3 linked regions of the Homo sapiens genome follow. The protein of the gene in region 3 interacts with the protein of the main gene of each other region in a pairwise test. Each region holds a gene or a part of one and is shown on either strand. Other genes may lie near its edges.

Region 1 (9,364 bases), on a different chromosome or scaffold from region 3:
ACTTGCTGTGTATCTTCAGAACCTAAAAGTGCACTTGATATGTAGTAAACATTCAACATTCAATTTATTTTACAAATAAATTGTCATTCAAGAAAAATTAGAAAAATTTACTGAATGCCTACTATGTGCCAGGTACAATTTAGATGCTGGGAGTAACATGATGAGCAACACAAAGTTAACGAAAAATGTATTACAAAGATTATTTTATGTATATAAATGAACCTGCCTTCAAAATTGAGAACTGAAGGGGCCAAATAAAGTTTGTCTTTACATGTTGAACTTTTTCATACAGTACAGACTTACTTTAAAATTAAGGTATGCTTATAGTAAAAGATTTATAGGCACATATATTTGACATGGGATCATCAAGTATGTGACTGCTGGGAATATTTTAAATCAGGGAGGAGGAAGGAGGAGGAGAAGAAACTGAATAGCAGTTCCATAACCTTTAGCAGAACGGATATATGGCCCATCCTAGTCAATACAATTTCCTTGGCGGGCGGAAGGTAGATAAACTAGATCATCTGTCTGTCCGATTTGAAAAATGCACTTAGCTTTATGAAATAAACGTTTGGTTTTTCTTCTAATAAAGATTCACTTAAAGAGGTTATGACAATAGTGAAAAGAAGAAGAATAGGGAAGAAAAAGGTAAACCATACATTCCTTATTCTAACAAAGAAGAAGCTGAAGAATGCTTTCTTCATGTTTATAGCATTAGTATCTTTGTGCTTCTTACAATAGAAACCAAAACAGAATCTCCATTTAGGTCCACAAAAGTTTAGAAGTAAACTAATCACTACAGTTGTAGCAAGGAAATACTACACAAGTCGAGAACAAAAAAACAAGGTAAGAATAGAAGTCAGTAAGGATTTGACACCTCCCTACCATGACGAGGTAAAGGGAAGTCTAGCAATTCCTTTACAATTCAGGAAACACTACATCTATCACGTGTACAGACTTAAGCATTAAAGACTCATGAGAATTTGGGATAAAATACATTTCTGTGCAGATTTTCAATCTGAGGCAACGTACCTTGATTCTCTTAAATCTTGCCCAAAGACAAGTATCTCAAAGAAAGATGACCATCCTTCCAGTTGATACCATGCTCCTGGCAGTCCAGTGCCTGTCCTTAGAGAGAAATGCTCCTGGCACAGCCAGCCCAGAGGACACATCACCCCCCTGTTCCTTTCTGACAGGCCTCACCACACGGACTTTTGCTACAGCTCCTAGTGGACATGTGTCATTCCACCACTAAAGCGACTGTCTTCTCCAGAGCATGCAGCACACGGCAATTCTCACTCAGCAAGTGCTAGCTGAGTTAAATCACACTTGGTCTCGGGGCCTTGGTTTCTTCATTTAGAAAATGATGGTGGAAATATCTTTTCAGCCCTTTCCACAGAGGTATCATAAGGCTCCAACAAACTAAAGCAGATGAAAAGAGCTCTGGAAAATGGAAAGTGCCACACAAGTGTAAGAGGGCCATCCAGCAGGTGGGCACCATACTCACTGCAATGGATGAAGTTACACAGACAACACAGACACAGTTGGGCTTGAAAGAGTCTTGCTCAAAATTCAGAGGAATCAGGCAGTACACAAAGATTTTAGGAAAATCTGTGTCATGAGTAGTTTTGAGATTCTGATTCAAAGAGGCAAGCATGGTCCCCAGATGATGCCAGAATGGAAGCTCCACAGAAGATATTAATACCTTGCCTGAATTACCCGTCAAAGGATCCCCAAGCCAGCAAACATTCGTATTTGATGAATGGGTGAATCAGAAACAAGGATAAGAGGACCCCCAAGAGCTCCCAACTTCAACCAGGAGGGAGTCTAAGGGGCCTGGCTGGCCTAGGAGACGCAGACTGACCAGCCTCCAGCCTGAAGTCCTGCAGGAAGTCTATTTTAAACCCTTTTCTCCAACCTTTTGGCAAGTTCTCACCATGGGGCAGGAAGTGAGCACAGGCCTGGGAACTCAATAGGCAAACAAATCCAAATTCTACCCTGGGCTCTGCACCTAACTGGATGGCCTCTCCTTAAAATGTGGTTACCAGAACCTGCTTTGCAAGGCTGATGCAAAGATTAAAGTTGATAATATATGTAATTCACTAAGCACAATGCAAGGACATAGTAAACACTAAACAATAAATCATCAGTCCCTTTTGTCTTCTGGGCAAAGGAGGAACCCAAATTAGGCTAGATGATACGAAATCCCTCCCAACTCAGATCTTTAGTCTTGGAGCAGAGACAGAGCCAAATTTCCCTTAAAGCCCTAGCTGGGTTAGAAGTGAGACAATCCATCAAGACAAAACACTGAGAATTACTGGTCCCGTGATAAAGACCTGCTACATAACCATCCATTCCATTTTCCCAAAACTATAACCAAAGTCATCTGAGTGCGAGTGAATTCCATCCCTTGAGGCAACAATGAGCAAGGCAAATATCTGTAACACCCAGCTGGAACAAGGATTTGGCTACAAGAATAAAGAACACTCTAGCACATCCAGAACAAGATTTCGGCGTTGTGTCGGTCTTTGGAAGGAGGAAAAAAATCCCAGAGGTAATGCTTTCAGGTTCAGGCCTTTTGTTGACACACGTAAGAAACTGAGAGAAACAGAGGGCATTTGAGTTGATACTCAAAGAATGAACTCCTTCATACCCTCTAAACTGTTTGCTGAGAAATCAGCAGTGCTATTAGCAACTGCACAAGTGACAGGACACACCATCGACTTCCTGTGCGCCCCAGTGACCTCTGCACAGCAGCACTTGGGCACACTCCATATTTACTTATGGTGCAATCTGATCCTGACTTCAGTGAGTTATTTCGCAAGCCTTTTAAGGGTTACTGCATTTTGTTCCTATAAGAGGCCAGTCCAAATTAGCAACAAAAGAATAGTTAAACACAAGAAAAACCACCTCTTTTGTGCTCAAGAAAGGCAGTCCTGGTCATTAAAAAGGTAAAGTGCTTTATTCGCTATCAACTTTCTTTTGCAAAAATCAGTCCAGTAATTTCCCAAGGGGGGAATCAGTAGTCTCACTCTCCTGAAGATGAGGATTGCCAAAATGGTGCGCCCATATACTAAAAGTGCAAGTTGTCTAGCGTTTGGTTCTGCGCCATGTCTCACAGGAATTATTCCAGCTATCAACGGCTACATAACAAATTACCCTAACATTTAGCATCCTAAAGCGGCCGTTTTATTTTCAATCTTTCTCCCCGCTTTTGTTTTTCAGACTAGATGATTTCTACTGATGTATCTTAAAGTGTACTGGCTCTTTCCTCTGTGATCTTTCTTGAGGTTAAGCACATTCGGTATTTTTTTTTTTTTATTTTAGATACTGTATTTTTCAGTTCTAGGATTTCCATTTGGTTCTTTTTTATAGTTTCTATTTCTCTGCTGAGATATCCCACCTTTTCACTCTTATGAAGCGTATCTCCTTTACATCCTTGAGCACGGTTACATTTGGTACTTTAAAATCCTTGTCTGCTAAGCCCAGTATCTGTGTCCTCTCACAGTCAGTCTCCGCTGATCATCTTTTCAATTGAGAACAGGTCACATTTTCCTGAACGTCAAGCAATTGTAAACTGTATCCTGGACATTACAGGATACATTATGCTGTGGCAATTCTGGATTATATTATATTCCTCTAAAGAGTGTTGATTTTTTTTTTTAGAGGGCAATTATTAATTATCTACAGTGTAAGTTGGACTTAATACTATAAACTCTAGGGTGGGAGCTCAAATCTCAATACAATGACTTCATCCTTAGCTTAGCTGCCTGGAGCCTGCCCCACACGTGTGATTCAGCCATTAGCAGAGATTTAGGTAGCTGACACCCAGAGTTTGGGGTCTGTTTTCTACTTTCCACAATTCCCCCCTCACTTTCCAATGCCATGGTTGCCCTCAAACTGTTCTTTGATTCTTCAAGCTAGAAAGACGGAAGATTTTGTAACTGACTTTTCACTGCCCTGCATGCCACACACTGTGTCATTCCCTTCTTCCAAGCATCAATTTCACTCCAGAATCTGCCCGTTTGTGTCAAATTCGAGTGTCTTCACATGGCTATTTTTTGTCCAAAGTTTATAATTGCTATTTGAAGAAGGATCAGTCCAACAGTAACTGACTGGGCTACTAACTGAAGCAGGACCTATATCCCTTATTTTTTTTTTCTATTTTTTACTTTTTCTCATAATACTATGGGTCATAAATTCAGGAAGGACTATGCCCAGTAGGGGGGCCCTGATCTATGTGGCATCAGCTGGGCAAGTAAGAAACTGAGGATGGATCTACTCCCAAGATGGTTTCTCGCACACATCTCATGCCTTGATGTTCCTTCACCAGACCTTTCCTCTCTCCTCATTGTATCTTATCTTCCAGGGCTTTTCCATGTGTATTCAGCAACTCGCAGCAAGGTGATCTCTGGGAATCTATACTTCTTACATAGTGACGGGCTTCTAAGAAGCCAGAAATAGAATCAGCTAGACCAGTTAAGGGCTATGCTACAAATGGTATAGGATCACATATTTGATTGCTCACAGCAGCCACAGGGCCTGCCCAGATTCAAGTGGATGGAGAAATAGATGCCAACCCTCGACAGGGGAGTGGCAAAGTCATACTGCAGACACACATGTACAATGCAAGACATTCTGCCACCATCTTAGAAAAATATAATCTGGCAGAAATTTAATTAATATTTAACTAAGCAAATCAAATGCCACCCGAAGTAAAACTCCAGAAAAATACAGAAAGGCGAGATCAATCTGAAGCATGTGGTCCAACTGCCCTGAGATCTTTCTTACCATTCTCTCACATTCTCAATATAACTACCTTTAAGCTCTTCTGCACATAAGAGGTTTCTAAAAGCAGCCTACTAGGTCCTCAAAGACTTCATACTTAAATATTATATTCCTTTTATATCCATTTTAAAACATCTAGAAGAAAAGGCTTATGATGCTATCGTCCATAAACATAGGATATAGATCTAAGCTTTGTTTTTTAAGATAATAGGCAATAATAACTAGTGTTTATTAAATATCTACTGTGTGTTAGAAATTTGTCTAGGCTCCAAAGAGCCTATATATTAACATATACATATATATATATACACACACACACACACGTGTGTGTGTGTATATATATGTGTGTGTGTGTGTGTGTGTGTGTGTGTGTGTGTGTGTGTATTCATATAAAATATATATCTCTCTATCCAAGCTACTTTCTAAGCACCTCAAGCTTTCACTCCAAAAGAGTGAATGTCTTCCAAGGACTATATTCTAAATGAAGCCATACATGTATAATACATACTAAGAAATCCTCTTACCTTGTCTTGGTTATCTTTATTCTTGTAACACAGATTTCCAATCAGACGAATGAGATGAGACTTAAACCCATTGGCCACATTGGAGATGTCACCTTCTGCTCTCACGCAACCACAATTACTGAAGATGTTTGTGGTTTCTTTTCCAGCTACATGAATCACCCGCAAAAGATCTATAACCAAAAGAGTAAACTTCATTTTCCACAGAAAAGTAACTTTTAGTATGTTGTACTAATAGTTTTCCATAGACAAATCTAATTTATTGTAATAGGCTAAAGGTAGAGCACAGAAAGCTTTATTTAAATAATGATTACAAGGCTCTTCTGCCTTTGCTTCAAAAAATGATTAGAAGGCTCTTCTGCCTTTGCTTTAAATTTTTTGACTCTAGTTTTGGGGAGATAAGCCATAATGACTACCCCAACTCAGAGTTTCTATTTATCTACAAAAAAAGTTAGCTAAAAGTTTGCTAGCATCCTTCTTACAAAAAGGTTTCCAATCTCAACTTCTTTATGAAAGAACTTTTCTAATAACTTCAGTCAATGAAGTCTAAAACACAATATCTATCCATAATGATGCATATGACAGAAACCAAGAAGAGTGCTTATTTTTCCCTCATCCAACTGGCCAAATCATCAGAAGCCAGCATATGTTCTCTATACTTCACTCCAGCTACATTCAGGAGAAAGAACTTACCACTGCTCTACTCTATGAGCACCTCCAGGCAGCCAATGAAAACAGACAATCTTCCAGGAACTGCATTTCAGTGTTTCCACATTATCTCATTTAACCCTCTCAACAAACCTATACAGGAAGGTATCACTTTCCCAATTTTATAATGAAGAAAACAACAGGCTCAGAAAAGTTGGCACCTGGCAGAGCTGGGATGGCAACCCACATCGACCCTGGCTCCAAACTCAGGCTCCTTCCATAATCACTCAAGTGTGCTAGGTTTGTGGTGTTTTATTTAAATTATCACTAAAAGCAATGTACTCAAAATACAACACTGATGAGGAATTCTAAGGATCTTCCTCTACAGCTGACTGCTAGCTCATCTATACTGCTAGACACAAAGTCATCTTTCTCAGGACACTGGTCTCCAGAGTAAGTATCATCTTTTTAAAGGAAAAAATTGCAAATAATGAACAGCAAACCTAAGCATGGCTAGCCACAAGGAACAGGTTCTACTTGAATTATTTTGCAAACAGCTTTTTAGCAAGGTTGGTAATACTTTTAACAATGGTTTCTTGTTTAAAACCTTTTTCTCATAAGATTTGTATATATAATATGTATAAAACACCATTCTATGTGTTCACTAAATGTAAATGGGAAAAATTTACTGCCACATTTTACAAAGCTATAGTAATATAAAACCACAATCATCATCGCAAACCTGCCTGCCCCACCTTCTTCATCACATCCTATATTGATGAAACATCTACTATATGCATAACAGGCATTGTTATCCTCACATTACTGAGAAGGAATCTTCAGTTAACAGAAGGGAAGTGGCTGAACAAACACATGGGCTCAGGTTTATCTGGCCTGCCTGAACTGTTACAACACTGTGATTCCTCTCAAAAAAATATATTCACAAAATTCCCAAAGTACACTGAAAATTAAGGATTTGTATTTGGATTTATATTACAGTATGACAAGCCAAAGATTTCTTAGCTAAAAATACAATGTGTGATATTTCACTCACCAATCACTCTTTCCAGCAAGCCAGGGAAAACCTGCAGATAGCCGAGCAGCTCAGTATTCACAGTCATTTCGCACAGGACGTCGAGAAGCCTAATTGTAGCCAGTGCCTCCTAGAAAGAAAAGAAAACATAACTTTTTAGCATATTTTAAGAGAAATTATTTAACTGTTATAAATAACTGTAAGAGAATAAAATATTTCAATAAATTTAAAGAGTCTGTGCTTGTAATAAGTCAAAGAGAAAAACAAAACTATGAAGAACAAAACAGAAGTATGAAATATGTACACGACTCATCATTTTCACTAACAGCAGACATCTGCCATCAAGAATGCAAGATTATGTGTCATTATGTGTCTTCTTGGAGCAAAGAGTCAGAAAAGTTCTTATTCAAGCAAAAAGACATTCCAACAGTGGAATAAATGTTCAAAATTACTAGCTATGTACATGACATTTATGCAAATACTTTCTTTTTAAAGCATTCCCAGCATGCAAATTCCACTTTAAAGATACAAATATCCCATAAAATACATTAATTTCTTGTCCACAGAAATCCTGTAAAATGCTGTGGTTGAAAAAACTCTGGCTTTAAGAACTTGCATAATTTCTGGGTAAATATGAACTTCTATGCAATATCTTGGTAGATTAGAAAGACAGTACTGTTTGAAAATGCTACTTCACATAGCTACTAAATAATTTATCAAATACACTGCATGACCAAGAAACTACCCAGTACCAACTGCATAGCATTAAGTAGTCTATACAAAAATTTTAAATGTAACTTTTGTATAGATTTTGAACCCCATTTTTAAAGTACCCATCATTTGACAAAATGTGGCAGAGATTATAAAGTTAGTCCATAAAGATAACATTCTTCACATTGGGAGGCCGAGGCCAGAAGATCACTTGAGGTCAAGAGCTCAAGATCAGCCTGGTCAATATGGTGAAATCCCGTCTCTAGTAAAAAAAAATATAAAAATTAGCCACGCTTGGTGGTGGGTGCCTGTAATCCCAGCTACTAGGGAGGCTGAGGCAGTAGAATCGTTTCAACCTAGGAGGCAGAGGTTGCAGTGAGCCAAGATCACGCCACTGGACTGTAGCCTGGGCAACAGAGCAAGACTCTGCCTCAAACAAAAAAAAAAAAAAAAAAAAAAGAGATAACATTCTTCAAAAGAAAGACAAATTACTTCCTTGTTAGTTCTAAATGTGTATTTACTGTTTTCTAATTAAGAGATTTAAAGGTAATACATTAATATAGTATTCTGAAATCTCAAAATAAATAGCAAAAAACAACTCATATTTTTAATGTCTTGGATCTTTAATTTTATATCATAGCCTTCTTTTGCTAAAGAGTTAAGTGGGAAAATCTAGATTAGAAGTCTAGATTAGTAGTACCATGTTAAAACGAGTCTTGACCAACTCCATCAATTTCACAAAGCTTCATCAACCTCTTTTGTTAAAGGTGTAGCTGCCCAGATTGTTATCGTGAGATACCACTGCTCCTTCAAGAACAGACCTGGGACAGCCCATGCAAAAGGTAACCCTGGACATCTTGTCATAGCAGACAACAAAGACGCTATTACAGGCTACTAGGGTCATGTCAGAAATTCGGAATCAGAAACAACTTGATGAGGCTCCCACCGGCCAGCAGTGGCACATTAAACATCAGAAAGAATTACAACGGTAACGGACTGAAAACAAATCAAGCGGTTTTACAGCTATGGCTTCATAATGAAAATAAAACAAAACAAACCAACTCACTGGTCATCTTTGAATGATGCCACAAAACCAACTCATTATTCTGAAGATTGGTAATCAAGAGGGAAAACAATCGAGCACTTATCCTGCCTTTCTTCATCCAGTGTACCTCACAGAACCTAAGAATTGGTTAGGGAAAGTTTCTCTTTAAAAAATATTCCTGCTAATAAACAAAAAATGAACAATAATGTTAAAATGCCACCATTTTGCAACCCCTAAAGAATTCATGGATCTAGGTGATCATTAATGACTGCTAATATCACAGAGACAACCAAGCCTCATGTGCTTCTTGACGAAAGTAGTATCATCAACAGCGAAACACTACTGCAAAAAATAAACAAAAAAAACTAACCCAAATCTGAATATGCCTCTGGAACGAATTTTCATTCACAGGAAATGCAAGGTAAAGAAGAATATGTTAAGTGCCACCCTGAAGACATACTCATCAAAATCTAAAATCTAGAAAAGTCTACAGGAAAAACAACCCAGTTTCTCCAACAAATAAGTAGCAAAGAGGAAAAAAAGAAGAGGAAAGGGGAACCTATACACTGGAGTAAAGTTATGTCAATCACTTGCCCTTATCTGTAAGGTGTTACAGAT
Region 2 (9,364 bases), on a different chromosome or scaffold from region 3:
TACTAAACGTGCAAGCTTAGTCAAGTGGCTAAGCTTTATTTTCTATAAAAAAGAGTTAACAGTACCTGCCCTAATTACATTAAAGAGATCAAACTGACACCATAGGGCAAAAATTATACAAGGCTGAGTGAACATGAAAGATGATCTCTATGGTCACAGATCTGTTACAAGCAGAACTATGCTGAGAACAGCTGAAGTTCTAGAATGCGAACTTGTTCTTCTGTTCTTGGGAAATGGACATGGGATAGTTCAGGAAGAATACTGTTAAGATTATACCAACTGCAAGCCCATGCCTCCAAAATTCAATGACTGGAGACCTGTTTAATAGTTCTTACTAAAGCAGTTCTAAGCTCCAAGTCTTTTTTCTTCTCATGAAAAACTTCAGCCAGAAATCTAAAAAAAAGAAGGAACTGAGATTCAAGTATTGACCTAAATATGGATGAATTTTTAACTTTTAAATAAACAAACACCTACCTAGCAAGAAGGTCCTAAGAATATCCAACCTTCTCATTTGCCTGCTCAAATCAGTAAATCATTTCTTTTTTGTCCTTCATTAATAGGCATGAGATTTTCCAAGGCTAAAATATGGACAAACATCTTCTATACCATCCCTTCTCCAAAATCAAGTCCCTCCCGCTTTTTACAGATATATTTCTGCCCATACAAACACAGTCTAAAAACCAACCAAATTCTTCCAGAGAGCTTGCACATCACATACAATATGTATAGACACACACCTGCAAAATCCTCCAAAGATTCTTGGTGAAGACTTAAAATAGATTCATATGGAAAGAGAAAAGTTTTATTGTCTGCCTGTTCCATAGCAAAGGATCTTTTTCTTTTTCTTTCTTTCTTTCTTTCTTTCTTTCTTTCTTTCTTTCTTTCTTTCTTTCTTTCTTTTTCTTTCTTTCTTTCCTTTCTTTTCTTTCTTTCTCTCTGTCTCTCTCTCTCTCTCCCTCCCTCCCTCCCTCCCTCTCTCTCTCTCTCTCTCTTTCTTTTTTTAGCATAGGACCTGCAAAATGGCATTTGGGATATCAGATCAACTAATAACCCCTTCCCCTACTTTAAGGATTACATTGAAGAAAAAAATCGACTTCCCTTTATATCCTTCCTGTAAGCATATGAAGTAGAATTCAAAATCGGTGTTTCAAGATTGTGTTTTCAATTTGAATCTTGAATCCCTTCAGGACAATTTGTATTATTTCTTCATAACGGCAACAGGTCACAGCAACAGGTCCCCATTTAGAACAATTTGTGAATTAATTTATGGTGCCTATTTATTTATTTCCCCCTTCAGACCCTTGGGGAAAAGGTACAAAATTAGGTTTAACCTAACACCAGTCCTGACGCGACCCATTACCCCTTCCCAAGTGTGTGTAATCAACAACTACGCCAAGGCTTTTGTGGTTGTTTTCCTCTTTTCTCTCTCTCTCTTTTTTTTTCCTTCAAATGGGAGGGTAATGAATTGAGGGTCAGCATTCTGCTGACATCCTGCACATCTCTTCAGTCAATCTGATCACTTCTAGAGGTGTTCACACTGCCAAAGCCATCCATCATGCTGCCTTGCCAAGCAGAAGGAAAACTGATGGCAAGTTACAAAAATCTCATTAAGCCACTTTTTGCCTCAACCTCTTCACCATTCCGTGAGAAACAGAACTTCAAAGTTCAGCCTATTGGGAAAACAAGGGGAAAGGAGGAAAACAGCTGATACAGTGAAAAGGAAAAAAAATAGATCTGAAGTAAGTTGGTTTCTGGGAAAAAGTCAAATAATTTGCAAGTTACAATATACAGACAGCAAAGATGGGACCATATCAATTAAGCTCAGCCTATTTTTATTTTCTTTCTGGCTGACTTTTAACTTTCCTAACAGGCTCTTTCATGAAATTAAAAAAACAGCACTGGTTAAAATTAATTTTATCTTCATCGTTTTTCTCTTTTGACAACTAAATCCCAAGTGAATTCTAATTCCAAAGGAGATCATGGATACAGCTTGTGAAATCCTAGGAGGATGCAGAAAACTTAATAAAGCCATACAATTCCGAGGAAGAACTGAGGGCTTGTCTATATAGAAAAAAACAACAACACTGTGTGCCACCCTTCTTGCATGCTGGGGACAGTATGGAGACAGTGAGGGTAGCATACAATGTCACTGCCCAGGACATCTGGCATGGGCAGATGGGCCTCTTTCTGGGGAAGGGCTTTTGCCAAGGGACAGAAAGACTGACAGACTGAAAGAGACTTAACACCCTCAAAGCACCTTCAATTTTCAAGTCCTATGTATGACTGGTGCCTTCAAATACTGTTTCTCATCTGATTCTTGCAGAAACCCTGTGAGTTAGATATTGTCATCACCATTTAAAGATGAGGAATTGTGGCTCATGTTGAAGTAACTCATCTGTGATTGCCCAGTTAGTAACTGGAAGAGCTAGGATTCCAACTTAAGTTCAACTGACTCTGAAGTCCTTTGCACTTGCCAGTTTCTTAAGACAAAGAACAATCTTTTTAGAGGCTTGCCTGTACAGGCACACCGTGATGTTCCTCGGAGGCCAGAGGCAGACTCACGGTTCTCTGGTCTCTGAGATAGCCTTGCCAACAAAGGCATGGTAATAGCGGTATCTAGTAGAAATAAATCTAATTTTTCTACGTGTGTACAGGTCAATATAATATGTTTTTAGCCCCATCTGAACACAGGCCCTCTGGGTCCTAATCACAATAAGCAGGTTGCTTTTAAGATTAACTTTTCCACTAGAGAGGTGATTAAAATATAATCAAGCTAGAAAGTTATCCTCCCCCAAAGTCACCTAAAACAGAGAAACTCCAAAATAAAACCAATTTACATATTTTAGCCCAAATTAAAAAGTAAAAGCTAACGATTCCCTTTTAATATCCTGAATAATAAGTGCACATTTATGTAAAGCTTCCTTTGGGGAATGGTTACTATGAGGACAACTTTCCCAATATTATTCATAAATATCACTTTTGTTTTGGTGTTACAGTAAGAATCTGGACTTGTGGGAACTGTACTATCTGTACCCAGTGCATCAACAGAGATAATTAATGTTGAAGACATGTATAATACCAAGAATTTTGGATGTGTGGTTGGCTGCATTACAAAAAGTAAAATAAGAAAAGATAAGTCAAATCTGGTAAAAATCACAAATTTCAGGGACTTGGTCATTTACTCCCTTTTAAGTGAGCATTTTCCTAAGGAAAGCTTCATTAGTAAAGATGGCAAGTTCTCAGCCTTTCTACTACAGACTTTTAAGTAGCACTTAGAACTAAAGTTTATCATTAGAGCAGTATTTACTACTGCTGCATCTTCAAAGGGGGCACTTGAAAAAAAAAGTTCAACTCAGCCTGTTATTTTTCATGTACAAATTAGAAAGCAAACCTTTAAAGGGTTTAGACTGGCAGCTTAGGAAAACACAGAGTACTTTAGAAGCCATTATTGGCACATCCCACGGCACACCGGGGCTCCCAGCTGTCTACAACACATGACACACACACACACACACACACACACGCACACACACACACACACCACAGTATTTAGATGTATATGACAAAGTAACTATGATTTCTGCTCCACTAGCAAACTTCCAATTTGGCATGCCAAAACGGTCACTATCTGTTCAGATGCTCCTGGGAGGTAACAGAGGAAAAGGAATTCAAAAAGCCACTTACATCAGAAGCAAGGAGGCAAGACATTCGTGTTTCTGTAAAATTAACCAGTTTCAGCCAAGCTTCATGGGCTGCTGACTGAAAGACAAGTTCCTTTCAACAGTCCAAACTTCTATATTTCTTCCTGAGGCTGAAGATGTGGACACATGAAACCTTATAGACTAAAATGTCCAAAAGATCTCTTATTTCTATCTTTTGGAGTCACACCTAGATGCTTATAAATACAGAAGGAAAGACATTTATGTACTTGAATGTTCCAGCAGACCTTTTCTTACTATTTGACACAAACCTCATTGTGCAATGTGCCACCTTAAAAATCCCTCACCCTAACTTCATCTCCAATCACAGGGACTTATCCTCTAATTAATTATGTCTTCTGATCATTGTCAAAAGAAAAAGAAATGGTGACCTTGGATTCCACGTTCCAAAGAAATGCACATAGTAAGTCCTCAACAAATACATCTTCACCCAACAAGGAATGACAGTCAGTCTCTATTATGAACACTGTTGGCAAAACAACTTTAAGGGCTAAAGGATAACTCATAGAAGCAGGAGAAGATTCAATGCTACGAAGTGCAAACAGAGGAAACCTCCATGCTGTGTTTTTTTCAGAATTCACCATCTTCGCTGGGTCATTTCTCTGCTTCCCCATAGCCTGAAAAAAGAACTAAACTTCCTATGGAAAAAATATTTATGAACTATATTTTATAGTTTAAAATGAGTAATTCAAAAATTAAGCTAAAGTTTACATGTTATTTTTCAAATGAAGAGTCCAAGGGAGGTTATTTTCAGGAGAGACCTAAGACATATATATTTTTTTCATTAAAAAAATCCCATATGCTAGTTTTGCATTTTACTTTTGGGGTTAAAAATAAGACTTTCCAAAAACAACAAAAAACAAAAACGCAAGCACAAAAATTACACTGACCTTATTTCCTCAACACTTCTACTGCTTTCTCAACCAAAATTTATTTAAGGATTCCTTTAGGGCTCTCAGCATTTCTTGATCCTTGTAGAGGGGGATCTTTATTGAGGGGAGAAATACCTTTGGTATTAGATACAACAAGGATCTGAATATGAGCTCCCCTAAAGCAAAATTGGTTGGTCTTAAAATGTTCTGAGCAAAGACAGTCTCAAGGGTGGGGTGGAGAGAAAGAGACAGCTGGAGCTAGAGTGAGAGACAGAGAGAGAGAGAGAGACAGAGAGACGGAGACAGAGACAGAGAAAGAGAGAGAAAGTCACCAGCCTATTAAGAGCCCTGACACTGCGTAAGTTATTTCTTAATTAATGTGCAAGGGAAAGCATAAATATTACCATTAAGCAGAGTGGATGTGAACATCCAAAGCAAGCTAGCTGGCTGATTGCTGTCTTATTTTTTTGTTCTTTTTTAACAATTCCATTTCCAAACTGCTCAATTCCTAACACTGATGCTCCAAAGCTACTGTGAATACACTGCCTGAATACTTAATGAAGTAAACAACAAACAAAATGGCTTATCTGTGGTGCCCCCAGCTAGCATCCCAAACTGGATATAATTAAAGGTGTGAACAAGCAAGCAAGGAAGTAATGGACCTGCAAAGTCAAGGTTCAGAGAAATTATCGGGCATCTTGCACTGCACCAGTTCAAATTTATCACTCATTATCTCCTATACCGGAAAGATGCAGACCCACATGTTGGTACTCTTCTACACTCTTGTCTTCCAGCCTTTTTTTCCTTTTCACTGCTAAATAGCTAATTTAAGACAATTACTGCTTGTGACTCCCACCCACCCACAGATCACCTTTTCTTTTTTTTTTACCCTTAGAAAGCCAGTGACCTATAAAAGCCCTTTACCCCTAAAATACGTGGAGATTTCACAAATATAAGGATGTTCCTAATACACACACACTTGCACACCAACTTACAAAGCAAAGCACAGATGTTAACACTTCCATCTTACCGCCTCCTTATTTTTACCAATGGTAAAGACTAGGTTCAAATGCCCTCAAAGAAAAACATCCTGCCCACCGCCCCCCATACATATACACATATCCATATACACTCACATACACACATTTTAATTCATACCCAGGCCCTTGATTGAAGGGATGGCTTTTAGCTCACAAACATTGTTATGCATTTGCACACTTATAATTTCTTAAGTGGCAGCTAAAGAAAGGTGTTTGGTTACTAACAGACTGCAGGGTCTGAATATATATTTTTTAATGAATATTTGAAATTTCATATTTTTCTAATATGAGAACTCTTGGAGTCATGAAGAGAAACCAGTTCTTATGGGAAGCAGCCCAGTTTGGTTTTCTCTCCATTTATAGATGCACATATACTTGCAAGTAAGTGTGTATACATGTTTAGTAATACCAAATAAGGAAAGCCTAAGACAGGTGCAGGAATCTGCAACACACTTATACTGATACACACAGAGTCTCTCTGCTTCTCTTTCTCGCACACACACACTTTCCACATATACATTACATGGATGGGGGAATGGATAGTGGTAAATAAAAGGTTGACTTTACTTTCAAAAGGAGAATTGACCAAATCTGTACAACATGGCCCATCGACTGGACAATAGTAAGATAAAAGCTTGAAAATGTTCATGTCCCTTCCTAGCCCCAAAATTCCCAATGACATTGGGAAAAAAATACTGCATTGCAGCATTTGCCAGCGCATACTCGTGTGTTTAGCATCCTCTGGCCAGCTCACCAACAAATGTACATATTAAATGTCTAGGCATATAAATTAACTGCCTGGTGGCCACAGATCATTGGAGCTAATGAAGAAATTTGTCAAGGCCAAAGTACTTTCGTCTATGTATGATGACCTCTATGAAGACAACCATTTCTTACTTGAGGTACATACAGACAATTTGTTTCTTTTTTTAAAAAAATTAAAATAAGGTGTTAAGATGCTCAGGGCTAAATGAAGCAGCATATCTCCTCATGGAAGAAATAGTATTTGGCCTACATATAGGAAAAGAACCCACCTATAATAAGGAAATAAGTGTAAAGGGAAGAAATCAAACCAAAAAAAAAAAGACTTACTCTGAGGAAATCCCATTGTTGTTCACAGTAACTCTAACTTGAGAAAAACATCTCAATTCATCCACAAGTCCTTTTAGAGATATTGAACACACACATACAAAGCACCATTCAAACAATAATTTCTAGATGTGAAATTTCAAATAGCTTATACCTAATAGAAATCCTAAGTTTAAAATATCTGAAGTCCAAAGTGTCCCAAATCCAATTTCAAGACTAAGTTTAGAACTAAAAGGCAAATGCGCAGTTCATTTTCTTTCTCTCTCTCTCTTTCTAAATATTCTATTGTTATTATCTCACAACAATCTGGCCTTCCTCTCATAACAACACCCTAATTTTCAAAGGACCAAGGAAGGAGTATTGGGAGAGAAAAAGTTTTAAGGTTTTGTGCAAACCATCAAACAGAAGCAAGGCCATCTACATCTGGCCAGGAGAATGACTTGAATGAATGGCAGGTAAAAATGAATGGGACTGAGATCACAAATGAATGGTTAAGTTGTTTGTTAGCTTTTTAAAAAATGAGATATTAAATTGTCTTGTAAATCAACAATTCTCAAAGTAATTTTTCAGCTACTTCCTCATCTATGTTAATTTTACCCTTTCAAAAATTTAAATATTAAATGATTTAGCTGTTATGTTACTATGAGATATATGGACATTCTGATCATTAAAACTGCTACTTAGTCAGATGTTTTTTGCAGAAATATTTCCAATTGGATTTTCACTTCTTAATAAATGCACATTCAGCCTTGTGCTTCCATAAGAGCACAACTCCACATGAAGGTAGTAGGCATTAATATTTTTAAGACAAAGGATCGAGAAAGGTCAGCATCAGAACCACGTGTCTTTTTTACAACCCAAGCCAAGATGACACTTCTTACAGAAATTATTTTCCCCTAACTAAAAATTGCCAGAAAATTCTCAGAAAATAAAAAAAGAAACTATATTGGAGACTTAAAAAAATTCTATTTTTTTAAAGGTGACACAGGCTTATGCACTCAACATATGGCCGCAAGTTTCAAGTGTATGACAAAAAATACAAGTTTATTTATTTTTACCTCAAGAGTGAAAATAAAATTTTTAAATCCCCTAATAAGAAGAGAAAACAAAAAGACGCATCTGCAAGGAAAAAAGAATTGGGGGGATTTGCAATGAAGAGAGCAAAAATTAAGTGTACTTTCAATAAAGCCAATTATATTTCCTAATCTTTTAGTGTATTTCAGCATTTTTAAATCTCTCATTTTTGGGCTTACAATTAGCTCCCTGATCATGCATCTATTTTGTCCTTTAGTAAAAAACCCTAACAGATCACCATTTCAATTGTTTTTACGCTATCTCCTGTTCACCCAAATACTACACCTTTCAATCCTTATGGTACCCACCATCATGAGAAAAAGAGACTATTAGTAAAGCACATTTAGAGAAAAAAGAGAGATGCTTGTCACCCAGTGCACACATGGGTCCCAGACGTCCAAAGACACTAATATAAAAATCAGCTTTTCACTCAGTTTGTGCCAAGACCAGAATCAGGACCAAATGCCAAATGGAAGGCAGTGGTTATGAGAGTGCAAGCCTGATGGATCCTGTGACTGTGGGCATGGGGAAAGAAGGAAAGCAAAAAGCTCTTCATTTATTATTTTGTAAAGTAATTTCTACTGAGGAAAAAAATGAGAGGTACAATGAATTCCCCTGAAACTATAGTATCAACATCCGATTTAGTAAAAATACCAAAATCACCTAACCCCAAATCATTGCTTAGGGTAGATCTATTCTACCTATATTTTTCCTATGAATATTTGCTGGAAATTTCTAAGAAATCATTTGCAGAACCTATCAGCTGTGGGAGTTCACTATTATGCTTCCGTCAACTTCATTCAATATAATTTACATTTTTTCAAATGGTCTCACAGGATTCCTTGCGATTTTTCGCATGTACAATTTCACACCAGGGAAAAGGGGGAAAAAGGAAAAAAAAAAAAGCAAGATTCCCTACCCTCCCTTCCCCCTCACCTCCTCTCTGGGTTTTTTAAACAACAACAACAACAACAAAAACCACACGCGCACACACACACGCACACACACACAAAAACAGGGGAGACAGAACAGATGCTTAAAAATAGATTTCTAAAAATCACTGTAAACCAGAGTTAGAAATGTAATTAACACCTATTAATAACGAATAATTAAAGTTGGGCTGGCCACAAAGAACAGCAAAGATAATCGAGGTCCTGTCCCCCTCCCCTTTTTTTTTACACTGTTTGCAGTGTGTTCTCATGATAGCCACCTGCTCCCTACTCGGCTTCTCCTCTGTTCGTTTCCCCGGCAACCTTTCATTGGGTTTTCCTCCCAGCTATCGCTTTCAGTTGGGCTGCTCGGTCTAATCTTATTTGTTTTACACCCATCAAAACAAGCAGCCAGACAAAGGCAATCCTCTAAGAATGGGAAAAAGACCACAGCTTTGTTATAACATCTATGCAGAGCAAAAAGTCCTCCCCAGGCTTTTCTAGGGAAAAATAAGTAAGATGGTTATGAATTTACAGCCTGCCCCCATACCCAGCTCTGAAACCTTGTGAAACCTATTGCTGGTGAAAATTCAAAGTCAAAGTGGGCACTCGTGGCATCTAATCATGCCATTTTGTGCCAT
Region 3 (5,213 bases):
GCCAGAGGAATGAATCAAAGCCCCGAGCTCAGTGCTGCAGGCACTGGGCGCTCCACACGTGGGCCGTGTCCAGGCATTAGATGCTAGGAGTCCCGGAGTTAGGGAATTTGAGAGTCAGGAGACGCTCGCAGTGATTGTCCTGAGCTCCTTTAGTTCTTCACCTAAGTGTAGGCTAGAAAGCACTCAGCCAGGCCGGGCGCGGTGGCTCACGCCTGTAATCCCAGCTCTTTGGGAGGCCGAGGTGGGCAGATCACGAGGTCAGGAGATTGACACCAGCCTAACCAACATGGTGAAACCCCGTCTCTATTAAAAAATACAAAAATGAGCTGGGTGTGGTGGCACGCGCCTGTAATCCCAGCTACTCAGGAGGCTGAGGGAGGAGAATCACTTGAACCTGGGAGGTGGAGGTTGTAGTGAGCAGAGATCGAGCCACTGCACTCCATCCTGGTGACAGAGTGAGACTCCGTCTCAAAAAAAAAAAAAAAAGAGCACTCACCCTTCTACCGTCCCACGGCTGTCAGCCCAGTGCATGGACAGCCTCTGGAGAGCGCTGAAAACAGACGTGTCACCCCCATGGTGGAATACTACACAGCAGGGGGAATGAACGTTACAGCTTCTGTCCTTGTCTGCAAGACTGTAGTGGAAAAAAACAAAGTTCAGAACAACACGTTTAAGAGGCTACCTGTCTAGCTTTGGTTAGAGACCTTACAAAGAGGTGAAAAAAAAGGGGGGACTACCTCATACGAGGAGCAAACGAAATCTGTATTTGGGTTTGCAAAACAAACACCTGGGCAAGTACATTCAAAACTAATTAGATGAGGCCATCTCCAGGGGTGAAGGGAGCGGTGGGACAGAAGACAGTGGAATTTCTCAGTACAGGGGCTCTTCATTTTGTTCTGATTTGTGAGCTAGGTTAATGTATTCATTGTTTTTTCCATTAAATTTAAGAAATTCGGCCAGGTGCGGTGGCTCACACCTGTAATCCCAGCACTTCGGGAGGCCAAGGTGGGTGGATCATGAGGTCAAGGGATCAAGACCTTCCTGGTCAACATGGTGAAACCCCGTCTCTACTAAATATACAAAAATTAGTGGGGCGTGGTGGTGCGCACCTGTAATCCCAGCTACTCAGGAGGCTGAGGCAGGAAGATCGCTTGAACCCGGGAGGAGGAGGTTGTAGTGAGCCGAGATCGTGCCACTGTACTCCAGACAGAGCGAGACTCTGTCTCAAAAAAGAAAAAAAAAAAAAAATTCTAGGCCGGGCACAGTGGCTCACGCTTGTAATCCCAGCACTTTGGGAGCTCAAGGCAGGCGGATCACTTGAGGTCAGGAGTTTGAGACCAGCATGGCCAACATGGTGAAACCCTGTCTCTACTAAAAATATGAAAATTAGCCGGGTGTGGTGGTGGGCGCCTGTAGTCCCAGCTACCCGGGAGGCTGAGGCAGGGGAACTTGCTTGAACCTGGGACGCAGAGGCTGCAGTGAGCTGAGATGGAGCCACTGCACTCCAGCCTGGATGACAGAGCAAGACTCTGTCTCAAAAAAAAAAAAAAAAAAAAAAAAAAAAAGAAATCATCATGTTTGGGCCTGGCCCAAGCTGGCTAAGCCTAGTCTCTGGGGTTGGGTCTGAGCATCAGAAGCTGCCAAGGCCTGAGCCAACAGATCCCGGACCCACTGTACCCTAGGGTCTGGCCTATGGGAGGGTGGGCAGTCACTGACCTGGCCGCTCCCTTGCAGACCTTCTCTGGGGGCTACGTGCACGTGCTGAAGGGTGTGCTCTCAGACGACCTCCTCCTGAAGAGCTTCCAGAAGATGGGCTACGTACGCAGAGACAGCCATCGGCTCATGGTGACCGCCCTGCCCCCCGCCTGCCAGCTGGTGCAGGTGGCCCTGGGCTGCTTCGCCCTCCGGCTGGAGTGTGAGATCCTGGGTGAGGTGCTGGCCCAGCTGGGCACCAGTGTGCTGCCAGCTGAGGAGCTGCTGCAGGCACGGCGTGCCAGCGGGGACGTGGCCTCCTGTGTGGCCTGGCTGCAGCAGCGGCTGGCCCAGGATGAGGAGCCGCCACCCCTGCCCCCCCGAGGCTCCCCTGCTGCTTACAGGGCCCCACTGGACTTATACCGGGACTTGCAGGAAGACGAGGGGTCGGAGGACGCCAGCCTGTATGGGGAGCCGTCACCAGGCCCTGACTCGCCCCCGGCGGAGCTGGCCTACAGGCCACCACTCTGGGAGCAGAGTGCCAAACTGTGGGGCACTGGGGGCCGGGCCTGGGAGCCCCCAGCTGAGGAGCTGCCGCAGGCCAGCAGCCCACCATATGGGGCCTTGGAGGAGGGGCTGGAACCTGAACCTTCCGCCTTCTCCTTCCTCTCTCTGCGCCGTGAGCTGAGTAGGCCTGGGGACCTGGCCACCCCTGAAAGCTCTGCAGCGGCCAGCCCGAGGCGTATTCGGGCAGAGGGGGTACCAGCCTCAGCCTATAGGTCTGTCTCGGAGCCCCCAGGCTACCAGGCACACAGCTGCCTGTCCCCTGGCGCCCTGCCCACCCTCTGCTGCGACACCTGTCGCCAGCTGCATGCTGCCCACTGTGCAGCCCTGCCCGCCTGCCGTCCAGGCCACTCGCTGCGTGTGCTGCTTGGCGACGCCCAGCGGCGCTTGTGGCTACAGCGTGCACAGATGGACACTCTGCTCTACAACAGCCCCGGGGCCCGGCCCTAGGCCAGCTGGGCCCCAGGTCAAGGGCTCTTGGGAGACAGCTCCCGTGGTGCTTCTCTTTGCTGGGGAGGGGTCTGGGCCTCTGGTTGCCTTGTCCCTGGGGGAGTCCTGGGCACAGCAGGGGGTTGGAGAGTCCAGGCCAACCCTTGCTGGAGGTGGGACTCTCTGTATATGGAAGGCTCCAAGGGCAGCAGGCCTAAGCCGGCCAGCAGGAGCCTTTCCACATTTCCCCACCCTCGGAACCCAGACGCATGCCCACATGTGCTGGGTAGAGGGGTCCAGCCTGTTCCAGCCAGTGCCTGAACCTGTCCCTGAGAAGGACCCTGTGCCCCAAGGCCCGTGGCTCCTGGCCTGCTCCCTGCAGTACGGAGTACGGGGCTCAGGACTTGGGGGTCCTCCACGTGTCCCAGGGATTCTCCACACGAGTGTCCTCAAGGGCCTGTTGGTGACACCGAGCTCCCCCCACCCCAAGCTCTGCTGGAGCCAATCTGCGGGGCTCTGCCGGGTGCACGGCTGACCTGGCTTCGGGGACGCCGGCCCTCCCCTTGGGTGTCACAGCAGCTGGGCCCACAGACAGGAAATGACCTGACCTCAAACCAGATGTGGAGGTGCACGAGAGGCGCAGGAACGGGCAGTGGCTGACAGCTGGGAAGGCCCTGAGCGTCACTGCTGCTGGGCGGAAGGGCCTGTGGACAGCCCGCCCAGGCGGCGGGGTCTTGGTGGGTCCAGTGGTAATGGTGCCCCTCCCCTCCATTCCCTGTGGGTGCAGCCCACAGGCTGGCGAGGAGGTGCCTCTGCCCTACCCTCGGGTCTGGCGAGGGAGAGGGCAGGGTGCATCCACTGTGACAGCCCCTCTGGGCCCACAACTCCCTGACCCTGGAAGCTGAGCCTGCTTTCCTGACCCTCCGCCCCACCCCCTCCTCCCCAGAACACTCAGAGGGACGGTCAACATCAGAGCACATTAAACGCTGGTGAAACCATGTCTGTTAAAAAAGCTTTTATCCAACAAGAGCCTATAGCTTCGCTCAGCATCAGAGCCACGGCCTCCTGTTGGGTCCTCCATGTGGGGAGCAGGGATGCAGCTCAGCCTCCAGCCCAGGGCTCTCCTGGTAGTCTCGGGGTATCCTCAATTGTGGCTCCCACCCCATACCTTGTCCCTCTTGTCCTCATCTGGAGTCCTGCCAGGCCCACCTGGGGTCCCCACAGCCAACCCATGCACGGGACAGCCCCGGGCGACTGAGAGGGGATACGAAGGTCTTCTGGGCCCTCTCATCCCAGGCCAGCGTCCACCACAACTCAAAGACAGCGGGGGGACTGCACCCACCACTCCTCCCAAGAAGCAGTGGTTGCACATTTCCAACATAGCGAGGAGGACCACATGAGACCCCTGCAGCCACGGATGGAGCCGCCAGACCTGCCCTTCCAGGGTGCACGGGCTGGGAGCCCCCCGGTGTCACCCGGCCTTTTTCTGGGGGCAGCAGTGGGTTCAGGGCAGACAGTGGGAGGAAGTCAGTGGAGGATGTTCCCAGCCAAGGGGATGAGCTGGATCCCGGGCGCCTGGTCAGCCTGGCTCGCGGCACCCTTCACAGACACCACTGATCGGAAGACCTGGTGTGGGAATACAGGCGTGTGCCAGGCCCACCGTCAGGGTTTACAGCGCTTGCTCTGGCCCTCGGAGGTGGCTGGGGCGGCCCGCTTGTTGCGGTGGTGGGGAAAGGTCGGCATGAGCTCCGGCTCACAGGCTGCAGGGAGAAGGGTTCAGTGCTGGGCGGGGCAGGGCCCCAGATAGGAGGAGCAGGCCCAGGTCTGAGTCCAGCTCTGCCTCTGGACCTGGCCCTGGGCTGTCTGTGCCTCCACATGCCCCTGTCCTCTTACCCCAGAAAGGGTGTGCCGTCAGTGAGGGCAGCAGGCCACTTCTCCACCACCCACCCCGGGCAAAACGGGCTCCCAGCCATACCCCACAGAGCGAGTCAGGAACCCTGCACACTCACGTAGGGGCTTCTCCTTGAAATAGGAGCTCTCCAGGCAGTCCCCGGCCGTCGCCCTGGAGGAGGCAGCCTGCGTTAGTGCGACTTGTGAGTGCGGCTTCCTCACCTCCCACCCAGCTGAGCAGCCTGTGATTCAAATGCTCAAAGGAAGCCAGGTGGCCACTCCGAGCGGCTGTGCCTGGGGAGGGGCCTCTCCACCGCAGTGAGGCTGGGCTCTGGGAAACGGTCTGGACAGTGTGGGTGGTGAGGGTCCCTGCCCCCCGTGCAGAGATCAGCACCTTTTCTTAGGGTCGTACATGAACAGGAAGTGCAGCAGGCGCAGCCCGGCCTCCGACAGCCATGGGAACTTGTGCTTCAGGTTGTTGTAGGGCTGCTTCCGGAGGCTGTACTGGCCGACCAGTGGCAGCTTGGAAAAGCCCTATGGGAGGCAGGAGCTGAGGCGCAGAGGGCGTGGGCACGGGCGGGGGCTGCGGGCGCAGAGGGCGTGGGCACGGGCGGGGGCTGCGGGCGCAGAGGGCGTGG

The links. The genes of interacting proteins can lie anywhere in the genome.
Region 1: the proteins of SPATA2L (region 3) and ATXN10 interact in binary tests that used the Homo sapiens proteins (3 or more experiments, as listed by UniProt).
Region 2: the proteins of SPATA2L (region 3) and ELAVL4 interact in binary tests that used the Homo sapiens proteins (3 or more experiments, as listed by UniProt).

The regions. Positions count from the first base shown.
Region 1 is NC_000022.11:45,736,487-45,745,850, reverse strand, and holds part of ATXN10 (ataxin-10), read right to left. Parts: intron 7,121-9,364; coding exon 7,012-7,120; intron 5,483-7,011; coding exon 5,313-5,482; intron 1-5,312. UniProt on the Homo sapiens protein: May play a role in the regulation of cytokinesis. May play a role in signaling by stimulating protein glycosylation. Induces neuritogenesis by activating the Ras-MAP kinase pathway and is necessary for the survival of cerebellar neurons.
Region 2 is NC_000001.11:50,110,573-50,119,936, reverse strand, and holds part of ELAVL4 (ELAV-like protein 4), read right to left. Parts: intron 152-9,364; exon of another isoform or gene 1-151. UniProt on the Homo sapiens protein: RNA-binding protein that is involved in the post-transcriptional regulation of mRNAs. Plays a role in the regulation of mRNA stability, alternative splicing and translation.
Region 3 is NC_000016.10:89,694,827-89,700,039, reverse strand, and holds the end of SPATA2L (spermatogenesis-associated protein 2-like protein), read left to right. Parts: intron 1-1,734; coding exon 1,735-2,706; 3' UTR 2,707-3,683; downstream 3,684-5,213. Other genes in the region: CDK10 (cyclin-dependent kinase 10), read right to left, coding at 4,348-4,445, 4,695-4,747, 4,970-5,109.